Regions from separate parts of the Homo sapiens genome. Here region 2 is linked to region 1. A link means that fine-mapping ties the variant in region 1 to the expression of a gene that starts in the linked region. Tissue or cell type: subcutaneous fat. Region 1 holds a variant in brackets; the other region holds the start of a gene. All regions are shown on one strand. Distances are between the middles of the regions.

The links. PIP is the estimated chance that this variant, and not a neighbour inherited with it, causes the effect.
Region 2: DMRT3 starts here. The variant in region 1 is fine-mapped to the expression of DMRT3 in subcutaneous fat (GTEx, PIP 0.98).

What each region holds. Positions count from the first base shown.
Region 1 is chr9:1,000,894-1,006,113 of GRCh38, forward strand. It overlaps the pseudogene RNU6-1073P. Among named protein-coding and RNA genes, the nearest start is that of DMRT3, 27 kb to the left of the region's middle. The variant C/T (reference allele first, on the strand shown) is at 2,741.
Region 2 is chr9:974,006-979,225 of GRCh38, forward strand. It overlaps DMRT3 (doublesex and mab-3 related transcription factor 3), which reads left to right and starts at 2,650. Exons shown (of 2, transcript NM_021240.4): 1 at 2,650-3,450. The coding sequence starts at 2,997. RefSeq lists enhancers at 1-1,283, 1,816-2,317, 2,318-2,817.

The sequences.
Region 1 (5,220 bases):
ATCATAAGGATGTCCCAGGCTGAATTTGTATAGGTATATATTTTTATGTGTGTGTGTGTGTGTGTGTGTGTGTGTGTATATATATATATAACTATGTCCAGGGAATAGTATGTAAGTATAATATATAATACTGATACATGTAGCATATGATATAATACTTATATAATATTCCCTGGACATAATTATGCTCTACAATATATGTATGGCCTATACATACTTATACTAAAAAATTATCCATTGTTTATCCAAAGTTGAATTCAACTGGGCATCCTATGTTTTTGTTAGCTAAATCTTGTAACCCTACCGGAAGCGATGTGTCTGTGGTATGACTATAGCTGTCGCCTCGGTCATGTCCCTGCAGTTAAGAAAACAGGAAAGCTGAAGTGGTAACAAAATGGGCTGAAGGCCTAATCCAGCCCTCAGGTGTATTTTGTTTGATTAGTACAGAGTTTTTGTTTTCATTTTCAAGTAATTGCCAACATTGAAAAATCCAGAGATCTCACGTATGCACCGAGTGTTTAGGCATTTCTGGAAAAGGTGGAAGATCTGTCAATATCGTATGGAAACAAATTAGATGTTCCCTGTCTTGGTCTCACTCATTTGTGCTTCTTTCCTGTAGCTGAATTTGGGACAGATCCATGTAGGGTATTCAATTCCCTAAAATTTTCCCTAGAACAGGGAGGAACTTTTTTTGGGGTGCTGGAATCCCTGAGTGCCTGTTGAGCCTGACCAGGCTGATCTAAAGCAGGAGGGCTCTTTACCCCTCACCCTCGACGTCTGACCTGGAGACTTGCTCCTTATAAGGCTTACATGTGACCTGGGACAGGTCCCTTGCTTCTCCCAGGGTCTCTATTTTCATCCCTAAAACAAGGGGACAACTATCCATGTTTCCCAACTTTTTTGTACCAAAAGTTCTGTTTTGTCAACCTTATGCCACTGTGGTTCCAGTTTTTGCTTGTTTGTTTGTTTTATAGAATGGTTCACAAATTTGTGAGTCATCCTTGCTCAGGGCCACGCTAATGTTCTCTCTGTCATTCCGATTTTGGTATGTGTGCTGCTGAAGCGAGCACATGGACCCGATGTTTTCAAAGATCTGTCTACCCAAGCAAATGACATATGTTACAAACAGCCTGTAAGTTCTGGCCTGCCTGAAAGCTAACTGGTTTCATCACACCACATGGGTCAAATTCCCTCTAAAAGCAAAACCATTTTGTAAGCTCCTGTAACCTTGCTGAAAATAGGAATGCCTTTAAAGCCAGTAAGGGCTGGGTGGGGTAGCCTAGGTTACACTTCACTAACACACTCCAAAATTTCAGTGGTTTAACACATAAAGGTTTATTTTAAAACTTTAACCCGTGCAGAATCTGCCATGGGTTTGGCAGCTCTTTAGGCAGTGACACAAGAATTGTTTCCTTTTTTTTTTTGAGACAGAATCTCACTCTGTCGCCTAGGCTGGAGTGCTGTGGCATGATCTCGGCTCACAGCAACTTCCGCTTCCCAGGTTCAAATGATTCTCCTGCCTCAGCCTGCTGAGTAGCTGGGATTACAGGCATGCACCACCATACCTGGCTAGTTTTTTATAGTTTTAGTAGAGACGGGGTTTCACCATGTTGGACAGGCTGGTCTTGAACTCCTGACCTTGGGCGATCTGCCCTCCCAAAATGCTGGGATTACAGCCACTCTGGCTTTAGTTTCCTTCTTTACTGTGGCTTGACCATTTCCACACGTGGTTTTCCTGGCAGGGGAGGGTGTGCTGGTGGGCTTTCCAGGGCCTCACCTCTGCTCACATTTCATTGGCTGGATCCAGTGCCATGGCTTCACTTAGAGGAAAGGGCTAGGAGGTAGAGTTTTCTGCATGCCTGGGAAGCTGTGGAGAAAAGCATACAATGAAACTAAGAGGTGACACCACAGGGACATGAGCCCTTTCAGTTCCAAAATCCTACATTCTGTCATTCTTCAGAGTGGTCACATGGTGTGGTCTGTAGATACACTGGCTTGACCTTTAAGATGACTGACTGCTGTCAAGCAGAACAGATGCTACAGATATGTTGAGCTTTAAGTAGTTCCAAATCCTATGTTTCCTTCCTGATGATAATAGCTTTTTTTTTTTTTTTTTTAGACAGAGTTTCGCTCTTGTCACCCAGGCTGGAGTGCAATGGCTCGATCTCTGCTCACTGCAACCTCTGCCTCCCAGGTTCAAGCAATTCTCCTGCCTCAGCCTCCCAAGGAGCTGGGATTATGAGCGCCCAACACCACACCCAGCTAATTTTTATACTTTTAGTAGAGATGGGGTTTCACCATGTTGGCCAGGCTGATCTCAAACTCCTGACCTCAGGTGACCCGCCTACCTCGGCCTCCCAAAGCGCTGGGATTACAGGTGTGAGCCATCATGCCGGCCACAGCTAACTTTTATTTTGTGTGCGTGTATCGACTCAACTTATCTTCACAGCAGCCCTAAAAGGTAGGTACGTTTTTTATTGCTCCTGTACTATTTTTTTTTAACAGGAACTGTTTCATAGATTTTAAAAACAGGCTCTGTCTTCACTTGAACAGATATATTTGAAAAATGAACTCGAGTCCACTGTGTGCTGTTTCAGTGATGCATTCTTGATACATGCATTTTCCCAGCAGAAGGCCCAGAATCACTAACACGCTGCTTCAGGGTCACACAGTTGCTGTGGGGAGCTGGATTTCCCCCTGAGAGTCACATCCGAGAGCCCATCTTGGGCTGACACTGGGG[C/T]CATTAGGCTCAGGGGCCCTGACATGCCCAGCCTCCAGAGTCTGCTCCTCAGGATTTCAGAGACCAGCTCATCAGGACAGTGAAGCCTGAGTGTAAGATGAAACTGGCCTTAATTTGACCAGCTATAGTAAGTTGGCTTTAATTGGATGTGAAATATTTTGCCCCTACAGGGAAATTTAACTGTGTTTTTTTTCTTTTTGCCATTTAGTGGCCCACGTTCCAGTGGGTACAATTTCCAACTCCCAGTCCCAGACTAGCCCCTAATTAAAATATGATGTTTTCTTTTCAAGCTTGGTTTGAAAGTCAACCGACAGTTTTTTGTTTTCTGTTGTTAGGAAATTGTTTTTATTTTTTGAAAAGGTCAGGGATTTACAGAGCTCCAAAGTAAAAAGACATAAAAAGGTTTACAGGGAAAATTCTCCCTCCTCCGAGCTACCTGAGTGCAACCAATGTTTAGTGTCTTGGGCATCCTTCCAGAAATATTTTATTTTTAATTTTCTTTTTACAAACAAGGCAGCGCTCTGTCACCCAGGCTAGAGTGCAGTGGTATGATCACGGCTCACTGCAGCCTTGACCTCCCCAGGCTCAAGTGATCCTCCTAATTTTAGCTTCACTAGTAGCTGGGACTATAGGCACACGCCACCATGCCCAGCTAATTTTTGTTCTATATTTTATGTTATTTTTTTGTAGAGACAGGATCCTACCATGTTGTCCAGGCTGGTTTTGAACTCCTGGACTTAAGTGATCCTCCTGCTTCAACCTCCCAAAGCGTTGGGATTACAGGCATAAGCCACTATGCGCAGCCCTTCCAGATATATTTTATGCACATGCAAGCATAAGTATTCTTTTTTCATTTTCTTTAAACATTATTTATAGTATACTATATACACAGTTGTTTTACCTTGCCTTTTTTTTTCTGTCCACTTACTATGTTTTGGAGATAGCTAAATATAATTATAAAGATAGTTTCTTCATTTAAAAATTTAAATTTAAATTAAAATTTTATTTAAAATAAAAATTTTAAAAATTACATAGTATTTGGCTGTTCCATAGTTTATTTAGCAGTCCCCTTCTGGTAAGTATGTTAAGTTTTGAAGTCATCTACTATTAAACGATTTAGTAATAAATAACTTTAGACCAATGTGATTTGAATTGGGAGCAAGTATAAGTTGCATGAATTGATGAAAGAGGAATTCCTGCAGCAAAGCGTACATGCATTGGTAATTTTACTAGATACTGCCAATTTGTCCCCTTATAGGTATTTTTCCAGTTTATACTCCCACCAATAAAGTACAAGAATGTCAGTTGCCCCACATCCCCAGTGAGTGTGTTTTCAGTTGTGATTTCCCACAACTTGAAAATCTCAGTATGCTTTCATTTGCATTCTCTTCTTATGAATGGAGGTGAGCTTTTCGTATGATGCCATCTGCATCAACAGCCATCTCTTTCTCGGAGTGCTGGAAGAACACTTGCCCTTGAACAGGTCTGTGACCCAAGCTCAAAGCTGGCAGAACCCATCGCAGCTTAACCACCAGGGTTTGTAGCTGAATGTCTTATGCAAGGAAGTGGTTGGTTTCTGCAGTGTGTTCTCATTAGAAATGCTTGGTCACTGAAACCAATCCTAACCAGGCTGATGGCGCCATCTATCTTTCTGAGATGGGTAAATGGAATGCAATGCAGTTTTACAAGCGGGATATTTGGGACCTGACATGGATGATTTCAGGGACCTGACCCTGATGATGAGCTCTGCCAGGGGCTGTGGATGCGTTCCATCAAAGCTGAAAATATCATCAACTTATTGAATTGTCTTTTGTCCTACTTGATGTCACTGAAGTGAGCATGTCTTTTTGATTTTTAAAAAATGTTTGGCCAGGTGTAGTGGCTCACGCCTGTAATCCGAGCACTTAGGAAGGTCGAGGCAGATGGATTGCTTGTGCCTAGGAGTTCCAGACTAGTCTGGACTACATGGAGAAACCCCGTCTCTACAAAACAATACACACAAAAAATTAGCCAGGTGTGGTGGCAAGAACCTGTAGTCCCAGCTACTTGGGAGGCTAAGGTGGGAGGATCACCTGAGCCCAGGGAGGTTGAAGCTGCAGTGAGCCGTGACTGCACCACTGCACTCTGGCCTGGGTGACGCAGTGAGACCCTGTCTCAAAAAACAAACAAAACAAAACTTTATTATTAAAAAAATAAAAGGCCCACATATATAGAGAATAGTGAAATGAACCCTAATCTACACATCACCAACATTAAGCAGTTACGAAGACTACACGACACTTGACCCATCCATCCCATTTCCTGTTTCTTCCTTTTGGATGAGGTAAGTAGTCTTTAAAGCAAATAATGTCATTTCACCCTTATGTACTTCAGTAAACATCTCTAAAAATGGGCATAGTCATATATAATTACAATGCCATGATCAGATCTGACAAAATTAAAAGTAATTCATTGGTATCATAAGACCGAGTTCATAAAAA
Region 2 (5,220 bases), 27 kb before region 1:
GAAGCAGGCCGCTCCTCCTAAATGTGATTTGGACCATATGCTTTCTACATTCATTCCCGCTTCGGCTTTTCTTCTCTGCACTAACTGCTAACACGTTATAGTCACCTTGAAATTTCCTCTGCTATTTTCCAATTAAAAGCTTAATAGCCCTGGAAACGGAGTTCATGTGGTGAAGTTTACCACAGCCCCTTGTTCTGAAAGGCTTTCTGCTGGGATCCCATTATGTGCTTGAATAAACCCTTTCTGCAAACAGAAATGGGACTCGGGGTTGTCAGGTGTTGGGTTACAATAGACTTTGAGGCAGGGGACATTTTACCAACATAAATACAAACCTGTCCCTATAGGGAGATGTTGTCAAATACTGGGATATGGAAAACATTCCCATCAAATATGAGAAAAGGATTACTGCACTATATCAAATGAGTATTTAGATCTCAGCCCCCGATGTGCACCGGAGTGAAACGGGCCCCCGGGACCAAATGCCAGACTGTTTGAGTGGCAACGAGATAGGGTGGCTAGGTGACCGACGGGGGAAAAGGGGTCGCCTTGGTAGTGAAAGTGCCCCCACAAACCTGGTGCAGAGCTCTTCTGCTTTCCTTTTAAAAATTTATTCATACTCAAGTTCTTTATACTTCCTCGTTTCACTGTTTGAAGAAAATCGGAAGAAATTTGGTTTTGAAAAAAGTCGTTGGTCCCCACGTTTCCAAGAGATCCGGAGGTTTCAGCGCAATAGTTTTCAGTTAAGGTGTCATTTGAGGCCCTCTATATCGCAGCACGTTAAATGACTCGCGTCCAGCTCCCCATTTCCTAGCCTCGGGCCTACAGGGCTGGGGGCGACCTCTGCCTCCCGTCCCCAGAGCTTACAAAATTCCTTCCAGTTGTATTTTAGGGCTTGTTTTCCTAGAGAAGGTTGAGACTAGAGGAAGGATTAAAGTGGTGGGGGAAGGGGCAAGACCGAGGGGTCCCTACCCCACGCGGCTTTGGAGGATGGCCTCCCAGGGTTAGCACTCGAATGCTAGAGCTTCTTGTCCACACTCTACCAGGTCAGTGTCCCGCGATCCCCACCTCCCGGACGCGTATGAAACGGGAACAGCTAAGGGCTTCAAGGGAAACACACAACTGGGGTTCGGTTTTCAACCCTCCTCTCCGCAAATCAGCCTTCTGGGCAGAGGGTTGGCTGCTAGAACGCCTGGAGGTGCTTCCCTTGAATTCATGGCAAACACCAGAGGAAAGTTTTCAGGTTGCTTGCTTACTTCCAGGGCAGTACAGAGAAAAGCGGCCTCCCCGAGGGGACAAGGGCCTCTGTGCCCATGAGGGGTCGGACATTGCAGCGGACTTGCCTACGCTCTCATCTAGCATTTGATTCCCCACCAGGAGATGGGCTTGGTGCACGCTCTCAGAAGCGCATCCACCGAAGGCTCTGGAACTGCCCCGCTTCGCATAGAGCTATTGTGCTGCCCTGCAGTGTATCCACTTGTTTTGTTTGTTTGTTTGTTTTTTGGTTTTTGCTTGTTTGCTGATGGGCAGTGGGGAGGTGCGAGGGTGGAGGGCCTTCTTTGTGCATATATAGCGATAGTCTGCACTAGGCCAAGCCCGCTACTCCTGGGAGAATGGGAACACGCAAATAATCTAAACAAAGTTTTCTGCTGTCATCTTGTGAAGGACCCTCTCCCCCAAGACATCTATGACTGGGGTCTATGGGTTAAGGAGGTGAAAAAGTGGCCCCATCCCATATCCATAACTGAATCACAGAATCCGTGGGGATTTGAACTGAGTGGCTGGCGCAAGACCTCCGTTTGCTTCCAGTAGCTGCTGGGAGCGAGGGAAGAGGATATCGGTAACTTTGGGGGCGCCAATGTGGCTTCTGTGTCTGCCCCTTGAAAGTTTATACCCGGCGCTTAACAAATCCTTTACAGGAGCACGTACGTCCCTGACCTTTCAGGATACTGTTTTATATTAAAACATGGACAGGAGGGTAGAAAAGTAAAATTCGCCTGCAAAATGGCTTGTCATCCTTGGGCCGGCAGATCTCCAAAACCATTTTCTTCTAAAGCAACAAAAGAGAAAAAAATACGTTCTAAAAGGAAATTACGAAAAGAGCCTAACTTTCCTAAACCAACATCACTTCACTCCCCTATCCTAAACTCCACCCAGGTCCGGGGTGCAACCGCAACACTCCCGTAGGTTCGAGTTCTCCCGGAGCTGAGCTTCTGCGGCCAAATGTCGGGATAAAAGCGGCCTTGGGCTCGGAAAAACGCGGCCAGATCTGGACTGGAGGGAGGAGAAGAGAGAGAAGCGGAGCGGCCACCTCACTCGCTTACAGGCACCCCCACCCTCACTCCCGCTGGTCCTCCCCTTCTCCGCCCCGCGAGCACCGCCGCGTTCTGGAGCGCCGCAGTCTCCAGCCGCGGGCTGGGGTAGCGGAGAGGGCTTGGAGGAGGGGGCCGCGAGCGCCCCCGCGAGAGTGGCCTGGCTGCAGGTGGCAAGGAAGGTGAAGTGCAGGCACCCGAGGGGCGCAAAGGAGGAGGAAGGCGTGGGGCGGGGAGTGCAAGGAGACAGGGACCCCAGGGGCGGGGGTGGCGGTGGGAAGGAGGAGGGGTTGGGGGAGGGCGGCGGAGGTGTTGGGTCCGGCCGGCTCACGAGGGAGCTGCAGAAGAGCTGGCTCAGACCTTAATCAGAGCTGTCGCCGGCTCCTTGCAGCCGCCGCAGCGCCTCCGCGAAGGAGGACGTGCCGACCCGGCTGCGCGCCCAAGGCAGAGGCCCGCGTCGGCGTTGGCTGGGCGTGAGCTGGGAGGCCGAGCTGTGAGCGCGAAGGGAGCTGGAGAGACGACTGCGGCACCTCCGGCCGCCCCGGAGCACACACGACCACCGGGGCTGCGGGACCAAGGGCCGCGTCGCCCGGAGGCCGCCCCTGAGCGGGCCTCGCAGCCCCGCCGTCCAGCGCTCCCTGGCCCTCTCCCGCAGCCAGGCTGCCAACTCATTCGGGAGCCCGGGGCATGAACGGCTACGGCTCCCCCTACCTGTACATGGGCGGCCCGGTGTCGCAGCCGCCACGGGCGCCCCTGCAGCGCACGCCCAAGTGCGCGCGCTGCCGCAACCATGGCGTCCTGTCCTGGCTCAAGGGCCACAAGCGTTACTGCCGCTTCAAGGACTGCACCTGCGAGAAGTGCATCCTCATCATCGAGCGGCAGCGGGTCATGGCTGCGCAGGTGGCGCTGCGCCGGCAGCAGGCCAACGAGAGCTTGGAGAGCCTCATCCCCGACTCGCTGCGCGCTCTGCCAGGGCCCCCGCCGCCGGGGGACGCCGTCGCCGCCCCGCAGCCGCCGCCAGCCTCTCAGCCGTCGCAGCCGCAGCCGCCGCGCCCTGCTGCCGAGTTGGCCGCGGCCGCCGCGCTGCGTTGGACTGCCGAGCCGCAGCCCGGGGCTCTGCAGGCGCAGCTCGCCAAGCCAGGTAAGAGCGTCTGAGGTGCGGGAGTTTGGCCGGGCGCGGGGGCAACTTCGGAGTGCCAGCTGCAGCTCCACTTGGGAGGACTGGAGGCAAAGTTTTGGGACGTGGGCCTGTCGGGGCTTTCCTTCCTACTCTCCGCCAGGCCGGGGCTTCCTCTCCCGGGAGAAGCCGGCTGAGTCTGGACCCAGCGCGAGTGGCACTCGCGCCCGCAGGGAAGGCGCCTCCGGGCAGCCAAACGACGGGACTGTGCGTCAGTATCGCCAGGTGCCTTCCCAGGTTGAAGGGTTCGGAACGTGTCAGATTGAGCAGGGAGACAACGGAGTTGAGACAGGACAAAATTAAAACCCACGTGCGCACACTCACTACGGTGGGGTCGGATTTTCCTGGCTGCAGGCTTTAGAGGTCCTTGCCATTTGGGGGTTGGAATGGGTAGGTAGGTGTAGGGAAGGAGCCAAGGCCAACACTCGGCTGAGTCGAGCTGGCTGTGCTTCTCGGCCGGCCCGGCCCTGCCCAGGGCCCAGGAAAATTTGAGTGAGGACAAGTATCCAACTCTCAGAACCCTGGCCTTTCTAGCTTTGCTCCGTGGCCTCCAGACTCTTGTAACTGGTGAAATAAGTTCCATTTAGCAATGATAGTAAAAGGGTCCGGAAAGGCTTGTGAGCTGATAGCGGGAAAAGAATCTGATGCGCCCAGAATTCACTCCTTTGCAGAACCTCCTAGATCCTTTAACACTGTTCCCCAGGCTGCCCTCAGCTGTCTTCGTGGTTTAAAGGAATACAAAAAATCTGATCCCCCACCACCCATCCGTTTCCATCCAGGCCTCCTGAGCTTGGCAGGCCTGAGTTGAGTCTCTTAGTCTCTCTCTTCCTGGGGAATTTCTAGCTTGCGGTTCTGCCCAGCTCAAGAGCTCTTTTGATGGCTCTTGGAATTCAGTGGATATGTGTTTGGTGTTTCTCCTTAACTGGGGCAAATGTGCAAAGGAACACAGCCCACCTTCTCCCGGAAGGGGGCATGCTGGAATTAGGAGTGGGAAGGTCCAGAGCCCTCCTGTAAGTAGAACTGTGGCAAAACTGGTACCTACACTGACCTGCCAACTCCCTAAAGACGGTACCCCTAGCTTCGGAGAAAGGCTTTCAGGAGCCCAGGACTGCTTTGTCTGGATCCTGTGGAGCTGAGGAAGTGAGGCGGACTCACCTGTTTCATGGTGAGTCAACGGGTGACTGGCAGGTGGAGTTCTGCTGCCCTGTCTTTCCGCCATGCTTTCCAGGCCTGAAGCTCTGAGAACAGCCTGTGTGACAGTAGAGCTGGGAATTTTAAAGCCTGAAGAGAGTTTGCCGAACTTGGATTTTGTGGATATTTAATCCAAGTTAGCATATAAACGTTTCTCAGAAATGATCGCCAGTTGTCTCTCTTTTGTCTGTCTCATCTTTTTATATTTATGGATTTGTCACAGACGAAGAGGAGGGAGGAGAAAAAGGTTTTATTATTTTTCTCCCATAGGTTTGAACAAATAACAAGGAAGAGTTTGGTCTCAGCTCTAGAATTGGATTTGTACCAATATATTTTCTTAATTTTTTTCCATTTCCAGCTTCTCTGGTTCCGTTTCCCCCAGGACTAGGGCAGAGGCCTGAGTTAACATCAGAGGTTAACTCAGCAGCACTCCTGTGATCGGGCATTGGGTTCTGTGGTTTTTATCCAAGGAGATGCCTTTCACATCCTGTGTTCTTCAGAGTATTCTTTGGGATAGCTAAAGTTCATGATTTCTAAAGAGTC